Homo sapiens: one gene and its partners. The protein of the gene in region 2 interacts with the protein of the main gene of each other region in a pairwise test. Each region holds a gene or a part of one and is shown on either strand. Other genes may lie near its edges.

Region 1 (6,057 bases), on a different chromosome or scaffold from region 2:
GACTATTCAGAACCATCCTGTGTGGTAGTTACTATTTCCAGGCTCAGAAAGATAAGTGATTACCCAAAGCCATGTCATAAAATAACTCATAGCAGTTCTATTTGTAACAGCTCAAAGGTGGAGACAACCCAAATGTCCTTCAATGGATGGTTAAATATACCATGGTACATCTATACCATAGATTACTACTCAGCAATAAAAAGGACAAACTATTGATACAAGCAACCACTTGGGTGAATCTCCAGGGAATTGTGCCAAGTGGAAAGAGCCAAGCCCAAATGATTATACACTATATGATTCCAGGTATGTAACATTTTTTAAATAACACAGTTATAGACATGGAGAATAGATTAGTGGTTGCCTGTGGTTAGGGATAGGGGAAGGGAAGATGAATGGATGCAATTATAAAGAGATAGCACGAGGGATCTCTGTGGTGATCAGACAGTTCTAGATATTGTGGTAGTAGTTGCATTAATCCACACACGATAAAATTGCATAGACCTACACACACACACACACACACAAATGCATGTATGTAAAACTGGGAAAATGTGAATAAAGTCTGTGGATTGTACCAATGTCAATTTCCTGGTTTTGATATTGTACTATAGTTATGCAAGATGTTACCATTAGGGAAAACTGACTGAAGGGTACATGAAACCTCTCTGAACTATTTTTGCAACCTTCTATGAATCTATAATTATTTCCAAATAAAAAACTTATTTATTTTTTTGAGATGAAGTCTCACACTGTCACCCAGGCTGGAGTGCAGTGGCACGATCTCAGCTCACTGCAACCTCTGCCTCCCGGGTTCAAGTGATTCTTCTGCCTCAGCCTCCCAAGTAGCTCGGATTACAGGTACCTGCCACCATGCCCAGCTAATTTTTTGTATTTTTAGTAGATATGGGATTTCACTATATTGGCCAGGCTGGTCTCAAACTCCTGAACTCGTGATCCGCCTGCCTCGGCCTCCCAAAGTGCTGGGATTACAGGCATGAGCCACCATGCTTGGCCAATGAAAAGCTTTTTAAAAGACGTATTCTCCAGTGTGATGGCTCTGATAAAAAAGAAAATAAGTATCCAAGCTTCTTTTCCACAACCCTCAACAACCAAGTGCCATCAAAAGGCACTGAGGTCTCTGAAAGAGTCTGGGACTCATATGAGAGCTCTGCCTTCTCAGGGATGGTCTGCAATCCACATTTGTCCTCTTTCCTTTAATCAACACTGAAGCTACCTAGGAGTCAGGCCTTGTGTTGGAAGCTAAGTGATATGAGATGAATGAGTTATGATCCCTTCCCAAGTGAACTCCCAATCTAGGGATAAAGAGGCCTAATAAGATAAGAGTTTGGACTAAAAGTCAAAAGATTTCTGTCCTCATGAAACCACTTACTAGCTTTCTTATTTTGGACCAATCCTTCATCTTCTGACATCTTGGTTTCTCAATCTGCAAAATTCAAAAGAATGAAATATAAATGTATATTTTAAGCTTAATCTGGGACTTCTGGGAGGGTTCAAGGATATATGTAAATTACATGAAAGTAGATAACTGCATCCCTTTTCGAAGAAGAGGCATTATATGTTTTTTTTCAGATTCTGGGAATCTGAATGTTTTAACTTTTATCATGGACATTTTCAAGCATATACCAAAGTAGAGTGTACATACTGCCAATCTTTCAAGCCTTCTAAAGTGCTGAGATTACAGGCATGAGCCACCGAGCCCAGCTAATTTTTTGTATTTTTAGTAGAGACAGGGTTTCATCATGTTGCCCAGGCTGGTCTTGAACTCCTGAGCTCAGGTGATCCGCCTGCCTATGCCTCCCAAAGTGCTGGGATTACAGGCATGAGCCACCGCGCCCGGCCAACTACTGAGCCAATCTTGTTTCATTTATTCCCTCCACATTATTTTTTTACTGCTGAATCACTTTAAAGCAGGCTTACCGGCCCACAAAGGGCTGGATTTTTAAATTCCATTTCTAAGGGCCCTTCCAGTCTGACATTCAATGATTCTAATAGATCTCTCAGGTCCCTCCTCCTATCTCTAATAATTCACGATTTCAATAGGGATGGAAGAAATAGACTAGAGATCTAACATAACATCTCATGATTCCAGGTGCCACAAAAGTTCATTCCCTTTCACAAGAAGATAATAACTAAATTTTAAACATGGAATTCTAGGACATTTATGATTTAACCCCCACCAGTGTTCCAACCTCATCTCTCACCCCTTCTCCAGATCCCAACCACTTTCCCATATAGCCTGCAGTTTCCACAGTTTTGCTCCTACTCACTATGTGCCTTTGTACAGGCAGTACCTTCTACCTGGAATGTCCCTGAGCCCCACCCATTTTGTTCTTGAGTCTCAGCTTGAAGTCTCCTCCCCAGTGAAGACTTCTATCACCTCTTGCCTCCACAGAAGGGTTAGTGTGCTCCCTTAGGCCTAGAAACTGAGTACCTGTTACCACACAGGGAATAGCACTGTTGGTCACTCTGGGCAGCAAACCCAACTACTGAGGGGCCAGACAGAAGTCAAGGTTTGAAGCCAGTAGGCATAACAAACACTAAGACCCTGCTTTCTCACCTCTAAAAAGAAAAGAGAGAAAAATATCAACTCTAAATAAAGCAACAACCTGAGAGCAACAGTAAATGCAAACAACATTCTATTTCAGAGAACCATAGGGAATGGTTGAGATTGAGACCAAATGGGACAGAGTATCTTGTCTAAAGGAAGTCGTCTCTACTCAGTGTCAGCTGATTGTTGACCAGCAGGAATTTGGGTCCAGTGTGGCCAGCTCTTCCGTTTTTTCAAGAAAAATTAGAAATCCAGATTTGCATGTGAAATCTCCCAATTTTTACATGTCAGCAACTAAAAAACATTAAAGGCCCACTGCAACGACTTTCAAGGTTTTCAGGCTATGGAAATGATTTCATGAGGGTCCACTTCTACCCATCCAAAGGAAACATCCTATGGTAGGGGTAAGTTTTATATCAGGGCTAATGGCATGTTAATGGTTGTTAAACCTGCTCCTCCATCCTGCACGGGCTCAAAAGGACTGCAAGGTCATAGAAAACCTTTCATATGAGGCCCCTGTCCTTTGAGGGCCTCAGTTTCCCCTTCTGTAAAATGAGGATATAAAACCTATTTGTGGCCCGGCACGGTGGCTCACGCCTGTAATGCCAGCACTTTGGGAGGCTGAGGAGAGTGGATCACCTGAGGTCAAGAGTTCGAGACCAGTCTGGCCAACACGGTGAAACTCCATCTGTACCAAAAATATAAAATATTAGCCGGGTGTGGTGGTGGGCGCCTGTAATCCCAGCTACTCGGGAGGCGGAGGGAGGAGAATCGCTTGAACCCGGTAGGCGGAGGACTCAGTCTCAAAACAAAAACAAAAACAAAAACAAAACTATTTGTGAGTCAGCTACCAAACAGAAAACCACCTGGCCGAGGGCTGTCAGGGCCACGTGCTTTTACCTACATCATCTCACTGAATTCTCAATTACCTCTGAGAGGTAAGTTCTATTACATCCACATTTTACTGATAAGAAAACAGTAGCTCAGAGATAGCAAGCAGTTTACCTAATAAAAACAAGAGCAAACTTCTTAAAAGCCCTTTCTCTCCAACGGCTTAATTTATTTAATCCTCCTAACAACTCTGAGCTGGGTATCGTCAAAGGGGATTCCACCAAGGTAGCCTCACTCCAACACTCTAACCCAAGGCTGCTCAACAGAAATATAATGTAAACTGCACATGCAATTTAAATGTTTTTAGAAGCTGCATTTAAAAAGTAAAAACACAGGTGAAATTAATAACATTTTTATTTGACCCAATATATGCAAAACATTATATTCCAACATGTAATCAGTATTAAAAAGTATTGAGATAATTTTTACATCAGTTTTTTCGTACTAAGTCCCGTATTTTACAATATAGCACATCTCAATTCGCTATATTTCGAGGGTTATCAACTAGCTACGTTGCAAGAGCTGAGTCAACTCAGGAGGCCAGCGGCCACCATAAGGGGCAATGCATTTAGAGTTCACTTATTAAATGCTGACGTTAACAGAACCCACAGAGCCGCATTTCCCTTGGTTTCGGAGGACACGCGAAAAATAACAACAGCAAAGGGTTCTCGAGCATCTCCTTCGCGCCAGACGGTGTGTTGTACTTTGTCATCGTCGCAGTAAGGCCGGTGCTATCGCCCTCCTAGTTTGACCAAGCGAGAGGACTTTCTCCAGATGGGCCCCTCCCGAGAGAATGGTCGCCGTCCCGCTCTCCTGTTCGGGTCACCACCGGCCGGGCGCCACTCGAACGAGCCCCGGCCAGCCGTCACCCTAATCATTCCCGAAGGAGGGGCCATCAGAGCTACAGCTCATCAGGGTCAATCAGAAGGGGCGCCCGCACGCAAAGGTCACCTGCAAACCGAAGCGGCGCACGGATAAGGTCCGGGACTTGAAGTCTATCTCCAAACATTCAGGCTCCTCCTCCGACTCCTCCTCGAACTGGCGCTCAGAGGCGCCACCATTCGGAAGGAGCCCAGGCCACGCGCAGCTCGCCCTCCCGCACCGCGAGGGCAGCAGCCGCCTCATGCGACTCGAGAACGCTAGAGGGCGCCGCTTCCGGGAGCCCGCAAGCGGCTTCCGGGTGCTCGCGCGCCGACCTGGACGCAGAGAAGCCAGAGACTTTCGCTTCCGGCTGCCGCAGGCGCTTCGCTGGTGCAGGTAAGCTCCGCACACTCTCGGCCGGTCCCGAGTCCGACTCCCTCAAGGGTGACGCGAGCTCTGCCCTTTAACCGGAAACGTCTCCCTGCTCACCCCACCCCCGCGCAGACGCAGTGCTGAGCACACAGCTACCGGACAAAGAGTGACGCCCGGAGCTGGAGTTATGGCGGCTACGGAGCCGATCTTGGCGGCCACTGGGAGTCCCGCGGCGGTGCCACCGGAGAAACTGGAAGGAGCCGGTTCGAGCTCAGCCCCTGAGCGTAACTGTGTGGGCTCCTCGCTGCCAGAGGCCTCACCGCCTGCCCCTGAGCCTTCCAGTCCCAACGCCGCGGTCCCTGAAGCCATCCCTACGCCCCGAGCTGCGGCCTCCGCGGCCCTGGAGCTGCCTCTCGGGCCCGCACCCGTGAGCGTAGCGCCTCAGGCCGAAGCTGAAGCGCGCTCCACACCAGGCCCCGCCGGCTCTAGACTCGGTCCCGAGACGTTCCGCCAGCGTTTCCGGCAGTTCCGCTACCAGGATGCGGCGGGTCCCCGGGAGGCTTTCCGGCAGCTGCGGGAGCTGTCCCGCCAGTGGCTGCGGCCTGACATCCGCACCAAGGAGCAGATCGTGGAGATGCTGGTGCAAGAGCAGCTGCTCGCCATCCTGCCCGAGGCGGCTCGGGCCCGGCGGATCCGCCGCCGCACGGATGTGCGCATCACTGGCTGAGCGGTGGAGCTGCGGGCGGCCAGGGCCGGGCGCTCTGTGCGGACTGGGGCCATGATCGGGCCCGGGGGCCTGAGCCTGGGACCCCACCCCGTGTTAATGAAAAATGAGTTTTGGCAGCGCCTGTGGTCTGGTGTGTCTCTTTCATTCGTTCTTATTGGGTTTATTTTACCAAGCCTGTTTCCTACCGCCTTTCTGGCTGGTGGCGAAACGAAGTTGGGAGTCCGTAACAATAAGGCCTTCGTTGGCTATAGTGGGATCTTTAGATGTTGACTGAACCTAGGTTATCCCTCTACCACACATGGGAAGTTTTTCACCTGGGCTCCCAAGGACCCACTTGGGTTTCTTACACGCAAAATAGCTGGCTCTATTAAATGCTCACTTAACTGGCTACCTCTATACCAATATGGGCACCAACTTGCACCTGCCCTTTGGGTACAGGCTTCCCAAAATGTCCAAGTTACTGGGCCATTTTAATGTGAAGTGTTTACTGCACACCTTCACAGAGATAGGCTAGTTCTTGTGAGCTCTGGCTTATGCCGCCAGGCTTGCTCAACTTCCTTGCCAAATTTTAGGCCTGTGGTAGGAATAAAGCAGAACTAGTTGAAGTAATGGATTATTTACATTACTGAAGCTACTC
Region 2 (7,961 bases):
TTTTATTTCAATTTCATGATACTACAATTTCAAAGTAATTATTCAGAACTCTGAATATAAAATAGCCCTAAATCTTAAAGGACAAATCAAATTTGAAATAAGAATTTAAATCTTTGGACAAGCTGTTAGGGCTTGGTGACTCCTCTTCTACTTTGAGCTTTTAAAATACTGACTGTTTATAATGAAGGAAAATAGCAACCAACTCTTTTAGACATAATAAACATGGTCAGAAGTTCTGGCCTATGACTTGAAACAAATAACCCTGAGCATTCATTTTTGAAAAACATTGTCAGATTCTTTGCTATAAGTATGAAGAGTTAATAATCTGGAAGGGAATTATAGAATTAAGCTGAACCCATGCCTGCATATTTAAAAAACAAAGCGGCTTATTTTAATGCTATCAAACTCTTCAGTATGGTATTGAATAGTCACTCATATATTCTAGCTAGGCATGTGGGTTTGTTATGATAAAAGCTGAACTTGTTCTCTCAATTTTAAGTGAAATAAATTAGTTGAGAAAAAATAATTATTTAAAATATAAGTCTTCATATTATTGTACAATATTTCTCCTTTGAGAAGATAGGATACATGATTTTCCCAAAAATCACAACTTTGAAGGAAGACTTAGTTGCTGACTTCAGTTATATCCTGGAACTGGCAAATTGTGCCCTTCCTTTGCTTCAAAAAAAGTGTAAGAAAGAGTGATAAGATCAACATTAATCATTCTTGGGTCTTTAGCAAATTCAGGATCAATGTAGAAAAACACTGGCATATCTACTTCCTCTTGGGGATTAAGCCTTTGTTCTTCAAAACAGAAGCACTGTATTTTATTGAAATACTGTCCAGCTTCAAATGGAACAACATTGTATGTAGAAATTCCAATTAGTGGTTTGTCAGCAGGATTCTTAGCTCTGTAAAACCCCAGTGCAGTGTCTCCTGGCACCACATATATTTCTGTTTGCTGAAGTCTAAAGTTCCACTGAAGACTTGCATGCACATCTGCATCAAAGTTAATTTTAATGATTCGATCCTTAACAGGCACCATGTTTTCAATCTGGTCTGAGGCATGACCTGAAACTGCTGATCCTCCAAGTCCAGTAGTCTGGCAATAGAGCCGATAAAGGGGAACGGCAGCGTAGGACGCCCCCAGCATGCCCACGGCGACAGCGGCCACGTTAAGTGAGGGTCGTCTTGTTCCGCCGCCCCCGCCGCTCCTCCTCCTGCGCGCGCCTGAAAGGGTTTGAGCTCTTAGACCGCCGCGGCGGCTGCAATGCTGGATACTGGGCTCAAAGGCTGCAGCGCTTCCATGTCTCAAGCCACCACAGTCGTCTCTGGGCACCTCCTGTCCCACTCCACTCTGGCCTAAGAAACCGCGCTACCCTCTCTGCAGCCGTGGCTGGAGACCCAGGGTGGATCCAGCGCCAGCCACAGAAAGCGACGCGCCTCCATCCCGGATGCCAGAGCCCTCCCATAACCCCCTGAACTAACAACCACCCGCCTCTCAGGGACGAGAGGTCAAATGTCGTGTTTTTTGTCTTCTTTTACTCACTATTCTGGCTCCTTTTACTATTATGTTTGTGAAATTTATCAACGTGGTTTGTAGCTGTAGTTCATTCATTTTCGTTGTTACATAGTATTCAGTTGTCTGAATAAACTTTTTTTTAAAACCCATCCTACTGTTAATGGACATTAGGGTTGTTTCCAGTTTAAAGCAATCACCAAAAAATGCTTCTAAGACATGTCTTTAGATGCAAGCACATATGCGTTTCTGGTGGCTGGGTCACAGAATACGCATACATTCAACTTTAGTAGATATGCCAGAGTTTCCCCAAAATGGTTTCACCAATGTACACTCTCATGAAAAATATGTGAAAATTCCCATTGTTCCATAATCCTTGCTGAAATTTGGCACTGTGAATCCATTTCTAGCAGGGATTTCAGCATTGCGTTTGTGATTCCTTAAGAAATATCAAAGGACCTATCATACTGGCAATATGTAAAAGCCTGAAAACATACAGATCATGAGGCTGTGTGAAGACAGGCACTCTCACACTTTGCTGTTGAGAGTACAAAATAACACAACCTCTACAAAAGTCTCTCTCTTATTGTTCATTGCAGCATTATTTGTTAAAGCAAAATATTGGAAGTAATCCAAATACCCACCCCCAAGAAACTGGTTAAAAAAATTATGGTACATCCACAGAATGAGTTATTATGCAGGTGTGAAAAAAGAGGACTACTTCAAAAACAGGACATTTCTAGGCTTTTCTGTTAGATGATAAAGCAAGGCATGAAAGAATGTATATAACATAACTTATGGGGTACAGAAGATAAATACTCATTTTTGCAAGAAAAAAGAGAAAAAGTAGGGAAGGGAGGAGGGAATGAAGAAGGAAGGAAGGAGAGGATAAATAAATAATGAAAATTGGGTATGAGTATATGTGGTAAAGGGACTGGGGATGGAAGCAGAACTCCTCTAAACATACCTTTTTATATAGTGTGGATTTTGAACTAAGTAAATGTTTTGAATTGTCAAAAAAATTAAAAAGGGATGAAAGCAAACCCTGAAATGGAATATAAACAGAAACAAATGCTCCTAACCATATATCGTTTAAAATATAACCACAGAGAAAATAATTAATTCAAATAAGGTATTTATACAGCTATACTCCCTTAATGGGATATAATTCAAAAACAAAACAAGCAAAGAAATTTTGAATTCTACATAGTAGATATGTTATTGCTAGTGATGTATTGGTATTATAATCTTGAAACTATTTTGTTTATAAGAAACTATTTTGTTTGAGTGAATTTATTTATGCTGTTGGGAGCCAGAGTTTTCACTGTGGGTGAAAAGAAAAAAAACAAATGTGCAACGGTGAAAAATGTAAAAGAATTCTGTGGAGTTGTTTTTGAACAGAAAGTATCTTATAAAATCCTCCATATATATATTATATATGTATATGGAGGATTTTATATCTGTATATAATATATATTATGTACATAATATATAGTATATAATATATTATATATGTTATATATAATACACATATATATAATATAAAATCCTCCGTATATAATATATAATATATAGGATAATATGTAATATGTATTATATATAATATATAATATATGATATATAGGATAATATATAATACGTATTATATATAATATATTATATATATAACATATTCATATATTCTAGCTCTTGTACACTGAAGGAGCCTAGAGGCAATAATATGTCCTAGTAGTGAGAGGTGAAGCTGGCTGGGCTTCCGGTTAGGGTGGGGACATGGAGAACTTTTCTGTCTAGCTAAAGGATTGTAAACACACCAATCAGCACTGTGTCTAGCTGAAGATTTGTAAATGCACCAATCAGCACTCTGTGTCTAGCTGAAGATTTGTAAATGCACCAATCAGCACTCTGTAAAAATGCACCAATCAGCACTCTGTGTCTAGCTAAAGGTTTGTAAACACACCAAGCGGCACTCTGTAAAGATGGACCAATCAGCACTCTGTAAAATGGGCCAATCAGCAGGATGTGGGCGGGGCTGAATAAGGGAATAAAAGCTGGCTACCACCCCCGCCCCAGTCAGCAGTGACAACCTGCTAGCATTGATTTTTGTGCTGTGGGATCTTTGTTCTTTCCCTTTTCACAATAAAACCTTACCACTTTTCAGTTTTTGGGTCTGCACTACTTTTAAGCATTGTAATGCTCACTACGATGGTCTGCAGCTTCAGTCCTTAAGTCAGCGAGACCACGAACCCACCAGAAGGAAGAAGCAACTGCAGGCACGCCACCCTTAGGAGTTGTAACACTCACTGCAAAGGTTTACGACCTCACTCCTGAAGTCAAGTGAGACCACGAACCCACCGGAAGGAAGAAACTCTGGACGCATCTGAACAGCAGAAGGAACAAAGTCCAGACACACCATCTTTAAGAACTGTAATGCTCACCGTGAGTATCCGCGGCTTCATTCTTGAAGTCAGAGCAGGAACCCACTGGAAGGAGCCAATTCTGGACACAGTAGACTGGCAGGAACCAATGCCAGACACAGTAGCAATGAGGTTATTCATTGCCCGAAATCCAGATCTTGGTTTCTATATACCATTTTTCACTGATGTACTGTAGCTTCATGAAGCAATGGTGATTCTAGGTTTAGGGTAGGAATAGTATAAAATGGGACTGAAATATCTTTTGTGAGAAAGTGAAGTGCACAAAAACTGTTGGGAACTTATCAAAGGACATAGAAACCTGTTTGTGGCCGGGTGCGGTGGCTCACTTCTGTAATCCCAGCCCTTTCGGAGGCCGAGGGAGCGGATCACTTGAGGGACAGGAGTTCAAGACCAGCCTCACTAAGGCATAGTGGTGTGTTCTTGTAATCCCAGATACTCAGGAGGCCGAGACAGGAGGATCACTTGAACCCGGAATGCGGAGGTTGCAGTGAGCTGAGATCGCATCCACTGCACTCCAGCCTGGAGACTTTGTCAAAAAAAGAAAAGAGAGGGAGCAGTGTGAAAGGGCTCCAACTGACCAAATTTTAAATAATTTGAGCATCAACATAATAATAACAGTAATTATTTGTAAAGGAATCCATGAGTTCATCGTGATAAAATGAGACGGCAGGGAAAAGAAAGGGTATTCTTTGCAGGAAATGGCAACTAATAAATGTAGAAATGTGCTTCAGTTTCCTCACCTGTTAAATGGAGATAATTGTACCTAACTCACAGGGTTGTTATGCGGGGTAATGAATTAATACGTGTTAAAACACTATGTTGGCCGTTATTATATTGCCGCGTGGAAGACAATGTGTCACCTAGTATCTCACTTAAGACTACAGACGGGATTCAGAGTGACGACCACAGAGGTGTGGAAACCTCCGGCCTTCCTAGAAGGAACACAGCCGGAACCGCTGTTTCGCGGAGAGCGGGCCGCGGTGACGCATTTCCGGCCTTTGTAGTTTATCATTCTTTGGGCTGCGGTTGTCAAGGATTCAGAGCAGATGTGATCTGCGCTAGGTGGCATCTCCTCTCACGGATGCCTCGGTGAGCTTCGGAGTCGGGCTACCGCTGAGGGGCTTCGGAAGGGCCAGTCTGTGCACTGCGACCTGGACTGGGTGTGGGGATTTGGCGGCAGGGTCTTCTTGGCCAGAGATGGGCCGGGCAGGTGAAGGGCAGAGGAGGTTGCTCCGCAGCCTGGAAGGGCTTTGTTAACCAAAAGTCAGCGTCGTTGCCCCTACCCCTTTCCCCCACCCTATGTCTGTTCCTGAGCTCTTCAACCTCTCTGCCCTGTACTGATGGCACTCTGAACTCTCCGTATCTGCATCTTAGGATTCAAATAGATTCGGATATGAAGAAATGTTTGTATTTTCCGATGTCTTATTCTCTACTGTGGACTTATTTTAAAGAATGAGCAGGGATAGTTTTAAACTATGCCACAGCCTTTCTTAGTCTAACTCACATAGTATAAAGGCTCTTGCTGCTATCGAATTTTTTAAAAGAATAAATAGCATCTACTATGTGCCAGCCCAGCACTGTTCTAAGCACTTTACAAATATTATCTGCTTCTCATAACTCTATGAGATAGACACTATTATTATGTAGACTACACCCCACCTCTCTGTCCCGCCCCTTTTTAAAATTAACATACAAGAAGAAAATGAAGTTAGTAACTTGCCCAAGGTCGTAGAGCGAGTAAGGGGTGTAGGCAGGATTCAAATACAGGCAATTTGGCTCCAGACTCCATTTTCTTAAAACCTTTGCTATGCTAACTCCACTCTGTTCCTATATTAGCTTTACAGCTATAACCCGGGAAGTTACTTCGCTCATTTGAATCCCGTCCTTCTTTTGTACCTCAGTAGTCCTGGGCTTCTAGTTAGGATTTGATTGGAGAGAATATATCTGAAGACGTATATCTTTCAGTGTTTCTGCAAACCTGATGAAACAGCCGTTTTATTGGTTTGTGTGCATGTTTTCACCCACTCATCTTGTTCTTTGAGCAATAGAAAAAGATTACAGTCTTGGCCCTAAGGGAAAGTAGCAACTATTAATTAAACTACCATTGTACCAAAATTGTACATTATCTTATTAAAAGATTAATTTGCATGTTTATATGCCAGGTTTTGTGCAAAAACACTTTGTATGCATTATCTCATTTAATATTCTCAACAAGTTGGCAAGGCAGTTGTTGACCTCATTTCATATATGAGCTTGAGGCTTAGAAAAATCAACTAACTTGCCCAAGATCACTGCGTTAAAATTCACAGATGGCCTGGCACTATGGTTCATGCCTGTAATCCCAGCACTTTGGGAGGCCGAGGTGGGCAGATCACGTGAGGTCGGGAGTTCGAGACCAGCCTGACCCATATGGTGAAACTCCATCCTACTAAAAATGCAAAAATGAGCCAGGAGTGGTGGTGGGTCCCTGTAATCCCAGCTACTCCGGAAGCTGAGGCAGGAGGATTGCTTGAACCTGGGAGGCAGAGGTTGCAAGTGAGCCGAGATCGCACCACTGCACTCCCGCCTGGGCAACAAAAGCAAGACTCTGTCTCAAAAAAAAAAAAAAAAAAATTAACAACCAGATCTGCCTGTGTTCTCTGCTATCTCATACTACCTTCTGCTTGTCTAAGGTAAATAAAATATATGGGCTTATATCAACTCTATGTGTGCACATGTGTATACATGTGTATATACGATTGCAAATGCATAGAAAAGGACACATTCCAGTATTTAAGACTGTTTATTTCAGGGTAATAGAACTTGGTGAAAGAATTCTATATTCCTCTCTACTTTTTGGATTTAAAAAAGGTTCTGAAGAGAAGTAATGGTACAAGATAAATTGTGACTGAGGGTGAAAGGTGGGACTCATACAGTACATGACATATGAGTGGGCAGTTGGAAGAGGGTGAGCTGAAATGGGTAAAGAAGACTTCAGAGAGGATGTGAGATTTGAATCAAGCTGCAGAGATTGGGTAAGGTTCGAATAAGGGAAGAAGGCAAGACCAAGCTCATGGCGCAGGGATGAGAAACGCCTGATTAGAATAATGAGAAGAAAAACCTGACTGGAGCTGAGAGTTTTTGCTTGTGGAATAGAGGAAACCAAGAGTGGAGCCAGACAACAGAAGCTAAAGGTCTGACTGGTTTTAAACTGTGCTTGAGAGTTTGGGAATTCATCCAATTAGTGAGGAGCCATAGATGGTGTCAGCGGAGGTGAGGGTCGTGGGATATATGATGATAAAGGCACATTTGTATTACATGCTGCTTAGTCTTCACCTACGTGCATGTCCTTGGTTAACAGCATCCTTCCATGAGGATGATGGTAGATTTGGGGGTGTTCAGCTTGCTGAGGCTCTAGGAGGAACCAACTTTAAAATGCAGATGTATTTTTTAAGGTAAGACTTATTATGCTAATTATATACCTGGCATATACATTGAGGTTGTGATCCTGAATGGAAGATTAGGAACTCTATGTTTGTGACGAGGAGGGCAGTATTACAAAAAACTGGGGAAGCCTTTTGGAGACACCAGGTTCAAAGAAGAACTCAGGTATGCTGGTGCAAGGATCTGGGTATTAAGGCCACCAGATAAAAGCAAAATCAGGTGAAGGAAAGCAAAAATGAACCCAGAGTATACAGAGAAAATAGGGAAATTTGTATTTGGGAAACTGTATAAAGATTTGAAACACCACATCCCAGAAATGAATTTTTCTGGGCAGAGCTCTAAGCTTCAGCTGCATTGCCTTTGAATAGAAAAACTTTGACTTGAAACCAAGCGGCACAGGTGGTAAATAAGAAAAAGACATTTTCGGACCCTAAAAGATTGAAAAAACAAGAAAGCATAAGTGGCTGTTTCATCCTTTGAATCCATGGTACGTTTATTGAGTAATGTGAGAGTACATATTCTGGATTTAGCTATTTGATATTTCTACCACAAAACTTTCTTACCCTAGAACCAATTCAGCA
Region 3 (7,026 bases), on a different chromosome or scaffold from region 2:
AGCCTGAAGCTAATTTTATACATTTTTAATAGTTTTATGCATGAAATGAAGTTGTGACTGTGACCTGTCACATAAGGTCAGGTGTGGAATTTTCTACTTGTGGTGTCAAGTTGGTGCTCAAAAAGTTTTGGATTTTGGAGCATTTTGGATTTCAAATATTCATATTAGGAACGTTCAACCCGTACCAGCTTTATTTTGGTTAGGTTAGCATTTCCTTTACTTTTCTATTTTTTGTTATTTAACAAAATCTTTTTAGCGTAAAATGAAATTTTTGTTATAAATCACATACCAAATGTATAGCTTAATAAATTATTACAGGACCATACCATTCAGGTATGCCAGATCCCCTCCATTACCCTATCCCAGTCAAAACTCCTGTGTTCCCATTTAGTCACCATTCTTCTGGGTTTTATAGTTTTGTAGTAATCACTTCCCTGTTTTTTTTTTATTATTTATTTATGAGATAGAGTCTCATTCTGTTGTCCAGGCTGGAGTGCAGTGGCACGATCTCAGCTGTCTGCAACCTCTGTCTCCTGGGTTCAAGTGATTCTCCTGCCTCAGCCTCCTAAGTAGCTGGGATTATAGGCACACACCACCAGGATCGGCTATTTTTTTTTTTTTTTTAGTATTTTTAGTAGAAACGGGGTATCACCATGTTGGCCAAGCTGCACTGTGAGCCTGGCCTCCTAGTTTTTGATAGCTTCCTTGTTATATAATATATTGAACAATTCCTATCGCAGATATGAAATCAGCCATTTCTTTAAAATGCCCGGGTTTCATTTAGAGGGAAATAATATTTCAGTTACAGTCTGAATGCTAAAGATCCTGAGTTAGTCACTGTTTCAGGCATTTCAGTAGACAGAGCTAGGATACCTGTATCTGTCTATAGACACACATGTTAAAAGATACCTAATGTATTCTACTTCCAGTCTTCAGATTGAGATTACAGAGCTTTTACTTAACAACTTCTCTATCACAACTGTAACTCCTTTTTTCCATACTGAGAATCATGATTCTCAAGAATATAGGAGAAAATAGAATATTCCATATTTACTCATTATTCTGTATTATACATATGACAGTATCAGAACTATATTTCTGAAATCACCATCAATATGATTACTGAAAACATTAAACCTTTTTTTTTTGGCTTATGTTCTTCTCATTTTTTCTTCTCTCTCTGTTTTAACAGTTATGCTCTATCTGCATTGTCAGAGTATATAGCCATTTCATGTTCTGCTTTTTCCCTCTTAGCCTATTAGTTCTATTAATATATTTAATGTTTACCACCAGTGTTTATGCTGAGGTCTCTCTAGGCATTTTGGCTACCTGAAGCTAATACATTGTTAGATTCCTCGGGAAGTAATATTGTCTGAGTTCTTATATATTGATCAAAGTTTATTCTTTTTATACTTCAAAGTCAATTTTGCAGATATAAAGTCTTTGGCTCACACTTCTTTTCCGTGAATTTCTTAAATACATTACTCCTTTTTCTTCTGGAATAAAGTATTGGTATCAAAGTCAGATTATTATCTAATTTTTCTTCTTCTTATAAGTCATGTGGGTTTTTTTCTTGTAGATAACCAAATAATTTGTTTTCTTTTTTTCTTTTTGAGATACAGTCTTACTCTGTCACCCTGGCTGTAGTGCAGTGGTATGATCTTGGCTCACTGCAGCCTCCACCTCCTGGGTTCAAGCAGTCCTCCCACCTCAGCCTCCTGAGTAGCTAGGACTACAGGTGTATGCTGCCACACCCAGCTAATTTTTTTTTTTTTTTTTCTTGAGAGACAGGGTTTTGCCAAGTTGCCCAGGCTGGTCATGAACCCAGGCTCAAGTGATCCACCTGCCTCAGGCTTCCAAAGTGCTGAGATTACAGGCATGAGCCACTACGCCCAGCCAAATTTTTTCTTTTTCATTAAAGTCTGCTAATAATATTAGAATATATCACTGTGTTGGTTGTTTTGGGTCAGTATTCTCAGGTACTTCATATTTTCTTTCCATTTGTAGTTTCAAATCTTTTTTTAAATTTCAGGAAAACTTTATTTTTAAAACAGCTTTATTGATATATTTAATATACAATAAGCTGCACATATGTAGTATAAGTTTTGACTTACATATACACCTATGAAACCACCCCAATCAGGATTGTCAATATATCCATCATCCCCCCAAATTCCCTTGTTCTCGTTAGTAGTCTCTGTGTCTAGCCTCCAATTCTCTCAGCAACCACTGATCTGCTTTCTATCACCACAGTTGGTTTTCATTTTCTAGAGTTTTATATAAATGGAATGTTATAGTATGTACTATTTTATGGCTGGCTTTCAGCGTAATTATTTTGACATTTATCCATGTTGCACATATTCTTTTTTATTGCTGAGGGGTATTCCATCCAATGGGTATACCACAGTTTGTGTGTCTGTTCACCTGCTGCTGGACATTTGAGTTGTTTCCAGTTTCTGGCTATTATAGATAAAGCTCTTACGAACATTTGTGTACAGTCTTTGTGTGGACATAATGCTTTCATTTCTCTTGGGTAAATTCTAGGAATGGCATGACTGGGTCTTATGGTAAGTGCTTATTAACCTTTTAAGAAATAGCCAAAGTGATTTACAAAGTGGTTGTACTAGTTTAAATTCCCGTCGGCAGTATATGAGAGTTCTAGTTCCCTCACATCCTCGAAAACACTTGGTCTAGTCATTCTTAGCCATTCTAATATGTGTAGTGGTGTCACATCGTGTGTTTTAATTTGCATTTCCCTCCTGACTAACAATGTTTAGCATCTTTTTGTGTGCCTAGCTGCCATCTGTATGTCTTCTTTTGTGAAATGTCTATTGAAATTTTTTGACCATTTTTAAGTTCAGTTGTTTACTTCTTGTTGATGTTAACTTCCTTACTAAGTTTTGAGAGTTCCCTATATATTCTGGATATGAACCTTTTCTGATTCCTGACTATTTTCTCTGAGTATGTGGTTTCTCTTTTCATTCTCAGAATGTTATATTTTAAAGAGCAGACATTATTTTTATGAAGCCCCATTTGTTCTTGAATTGTATCATGCTTTTGGTGTCATATCATAGACATGTTTGCCTAACTCAAGGCCATACAGTTTTTCTGTGTTTTTCTAGACATGTTGTGATTTTAAGTTTTAGATTTATGTCATTCATTTTAATTTTTTTGTATATGGTGTGAGATATGGCTGAAAGTCCTGTTTCTTTCTCTTTTTTTTGTACATGGGCATCCCATTGTTCTAGCATCATTTATTGAAAAAAAAAAACTATCGTTTTTCCTGCTAAATTACCTTCGTATCTTTGGTGAAAATTAGTTGTCCATATATGTATGAGTCTGTTTCTGGAATCTATTTAGTTTCATTAATCTGTTTGTCTATCTTGATATCAATGCTATATTGTCTTGATTACTATAGCTTTATAAACCTTGAAATGATATAGTATTAGTCCTTCAACTTTGTTCTTCTTTTTCATTCATTCATTTATTAATTTAGAGATAGGGTCTTGCTTTGTCACCCAGCCTAGAGTGCAGTGGCACAATCATAGCTCACTGATTAAACTCCTGGGTTCAAGTTGTCTTCCCACCTCAGCCACCTAAGTAGCGAGGACTACAGGTTCATGCCACAATGCCTGGCTAATCTTTTTTTTGTAGAGATGGGGTCTTGCTATGTTGCCCAGTCTGGTCTTGAATTCCTGGGCCTCAAGCTGTCCTCCTGCCTCAGCCTCCCAGAGTGCTGGGATTACAGGTGTGAGCCACCATGGCCAGCCTGTTCTTTTTCAAAGTTGTTTTGTCTTTTATAGATCTTTTGCAGCTCTGTATGAATTTTAAAATCAGGAAAGTTTCCTGAATTATAGTTTTTTTAATTGGTTCTGTTGTTTTAGTTTTCTTTTTCAATTACCACTATTATGTGTATGTTTGAGCTTCTTTGCCTATCTTTGTCATTTTCATATTTCTTCTTCATTTCTTTTTAATTTTTTAAAATTGTTTTCCTTTTAATCTCTATTTCTCTTAAGGCATTGTCTGTAGTCTTTACTCATTCATTTTCCTTCTTTAATCTTCATTTCAGAAATAATTAGTTTTTAAAAGTTACTAATTTCTAGATTCTATCAGCTCATTTCCAAGTTTTATTTCTAATTATGTTGTTTATGTCTTACAGAGTTTTACATGTATTTTAGTTTGTTTTAATATAGAGGTTATAGTTCCTATCTGTTTTGTGAGCACGTCTTTCTAGTATATTTTTCTTGTCTGTAGAGATTTTTTTTAATATGAACTTTTACAATTTAAAATTTTTTTAATTTCATGGGTGCACAGATGTGTATGTTTATGGGTTACATGGGATATTTTGATACACCATATAATATATAATAATCATATCAGGGTAAATGAGGTAGCCACCATCTTAAGCATTTATCCTTTGTGTTAGAAACAATCCAATTATTCTCTTTTAGTTACTTAAAAGTGTGCAATTATATTATTATTGAATATAGTCAACCCATTGTGCTAGCAAATATTAGATCTTATTCTTTTTTTCTATTTTTTTGTACCCATTGACCATCCCCTCTTCCTTTCAGCCCACCTGTTACTCTTCCCAGCCTTTGGTAACCATCCTTCTACTCTGTGTCTCCATGAGTTCAATTGTTTTGATTTTTGGATCCCACAAATAAATGAGAACATGTGATGTTTGTCTTTCTGTGCCTGGCTTATTTCACTTAAAATAATGACTTCCAGTTCCATCCATGTTGTTGCAAATGACAGGAGCTCATTCTTTTTTTATGGCTGAGTAGTACTCCATTATGTATATGTACCAGATTTTCTTTATCCATTTGTCTGTCAGTGGACACTTGGGTTGCTTCCAAATCTTGGCTTTTGTGAATAATGCTGCAGTAAACATGAGAGTGCAGATATCTCTTTAATATGCTGATTTCCTACCAAAAATATAAAAAATTGGCCAGTGTGGTGGCATGTGCCTATAATCCCAGCTACTCAGGAGGCTGAGGCAGGAGAATCGCTTGAACCTGGGAGGCAGAGGTTGCAGTGAGCCGAGATTGTGCCACTGCACTCCAGCCTGGGCGACAGAGTGAGACTCAAAAAAAAAAAGTTGTTTCAGATCCTTATACATCCTGGCTATTAACCCTCGTCAGATGGGTAGTTTACAAATATTTTCTCCCATTCTGTGGGTTGTCTCTTCACTTTGTTGTTTCCTTTGCCGTGCAGAAGCTTTTTAACTCAATGTGACCCCACCTGTCTATTTTTGCTTTGGTTGCCTGTGCTTGTGGTATATTACTCAAGAAATCTTTGCCCAATCCAATGTCCTGGAGAGTTTCCCCAATTTTTTTGTAGTACTTTCATAGTTTGAGGGCTTAGATTTAAGTCTTGATTCATTTTTATTTGATTTTTGTATATGGTGAGAGATAGGGGTCTAGTTCCATTCTTCTGCATATGGATATCCCAGCACCATTCATTGAAGAGACTTTTCTTTCCCCAATGTATGTTCTTGGCACCTTTGTCAATAATGAGTTCACTGTCAGTATGTGGATTTGTTTCTGGGTTTTCTGTTCTGTTCCATTGGTCTATGTGTCTGTTTTGGTGGCAGTAGTATGCTGTTTTAGTTAATATAGCTCTGCAATATAATTTGAAGTCAGTTAATGTGATTCCTCCAGTTTTATTCTTTTTGCTCAGGATAGCTTTGGCTATTCTGGGTCTTTTGTGCTTTAAATTTTAGGATTATTTTGTCTATTTCTGTGAAGAATGTCATTGGTATTTTGCTAGGCATTTGCATTGAATCTGTAGATTGCTTTGAGTAATATAGATATTTTAACAATATTGATTGTTTCAATCTATGAACATGGAATATCTTTTCATTTTTTTGTGGCCTCTTCAATTTCTGTCATCAGTATTTTATAATTTTCATTGTAGAGATGTTTTACTTCATTGGTTCAGTTAATTCCTAGGTGTTTAATTTTCTTTGTGGCTATTGTAAATGGGATTACTGTTTTGATTTCTTTTTCAGATTGTCCTTGTTGGTTTATAGAAATGCTACTGATTTTTCTAAGCTGATTTTGTGTCTTGCAGCTTTACTGAATTTGTTTACCAGTTCAAATAGCTTTTTGGTGGAGTCTTCAGGTTTTTCCAAATATAAGATCATGTCACCTGCAAACAAGGATAATTTGATTTCAAATTTTGATGGCCTTTTTTTCCTTTCTCATGTCTAACTGCTAGCTAGAGCAATTCCAGTCCTTTTTCATCTCTAGCTAGAGCAATTCTAGTCCTAACTACAGCAATTCCAGTCCTTTTTCATCTCTGATTTTATTTGAATCTTTTTTCCTTTCTTCCTTCATAGTCTGGCTAAAGGTTTGTCAATTTTTTATCCTTGTTCTGTTCTAGATCTTAGAGGAAAGGCTTTCAGTTTTTCCCGATTCAGTGTGATACTGCCTGTGGGTCTGTCATACATGGCTTTTATTATGTGGAGGTATGTTCCTTTTATACCTAGTTTTTTTAGGGTTTTTTTTTTAAATCATGAAGGAATGTTGAATTTTATCAAGTGCTTTTTCAGTATCAGTTGAAACGATCATATGGTTTTTGTCTTTCAGTCTGTTGATAATGATGTATCACATTGATTGATTTGCATATGTTGAATCATCCTTTCATCCCTGGGATAAATCCCACTTGTTGATGATGAATGATCTTTTTAATGTGTTGTTGAATTTGGTTTGCTAGTATTTTGTTGAAGATTTTTGCATCAATATTAATCAGGGATATTGGCCTGTAGGTTTTTCTCTCTCTCTCTCTTTTTTTTTTTTTTTTTTGATATGTCTTTGTCTGGTTTTGGTATCAGGGTAATACTGGCCTCATAGAATGAGTTTGGATGTATTCCCTCCTCTTCCATTCTTCAGAATAGTTTGAGTAGGGTTGGTGTTAATTCTTTAAATGTTTGGTAGAATTCAGCAGTGAAGCCATGGAGTCCGAGGCTTTTCTTTGCTGGAGGACTTTTTATTATAGCTTCAATGTTGTTAGTTGTTATTG

Evidence for each region. The genes of interacting proteins can lie anywhere in the genome.
Region 1: the proteins of ZSCAN23 (region 2) and SCAND1 interact in binary tests that used the Homo sapiens proteins (3 or more experiments, as listed by UniProt).
Region 3: the proteins of ZSCAN23 (region 2) and CEP70 interact in binary tests that used the Homo sapiens proteins (3 or more experiments, as listed by UniProt).

The regions. Positions count from the first base shown.
Region 1 is NC_000020.11:35,953,108-35,959,164, reverse strand, and holds SCAND1 (SCAN domain-containing protein 1), read left to right. Parts: upstream 1-4,662; 5' UTR 4,663-4,717; exon of another isoform or gene 4,718-4,825; 5' UTR 4,826-4,880; coding exon 4,881-5,420; 3' UTR 5,421-5,541; downstream 5,542-6,057. Other genes in the region: CNBD2 (cyclic nucleotide-binding domain-containing protein 2), read right to left, coding at 1,391-1,444, 4,412-4,585. UniProt on the Homo sapiens protein: May regulate transcriptional activity.
Region 2 is NC_000006.12:28,440,484-28,448,444, reverse strand, and holds the start of ZSCAN23 (zinc finger and SCAN domain-containing protein 23), read left to right. Parts: upstream 1-4,953; 5' UTR 4,954-5,046; exon of another isoform or gene 5,047-7,961. UniProt on the Homo sapiens protein: May be involved in transcriptional regulation.
Region 3 is NC_000003.12:138,584,245-138,591,270, reverse strand, and holds part of CEP70 (centrosomal protein of 70 kDa), read left to right. Parts: intron 1-7,026.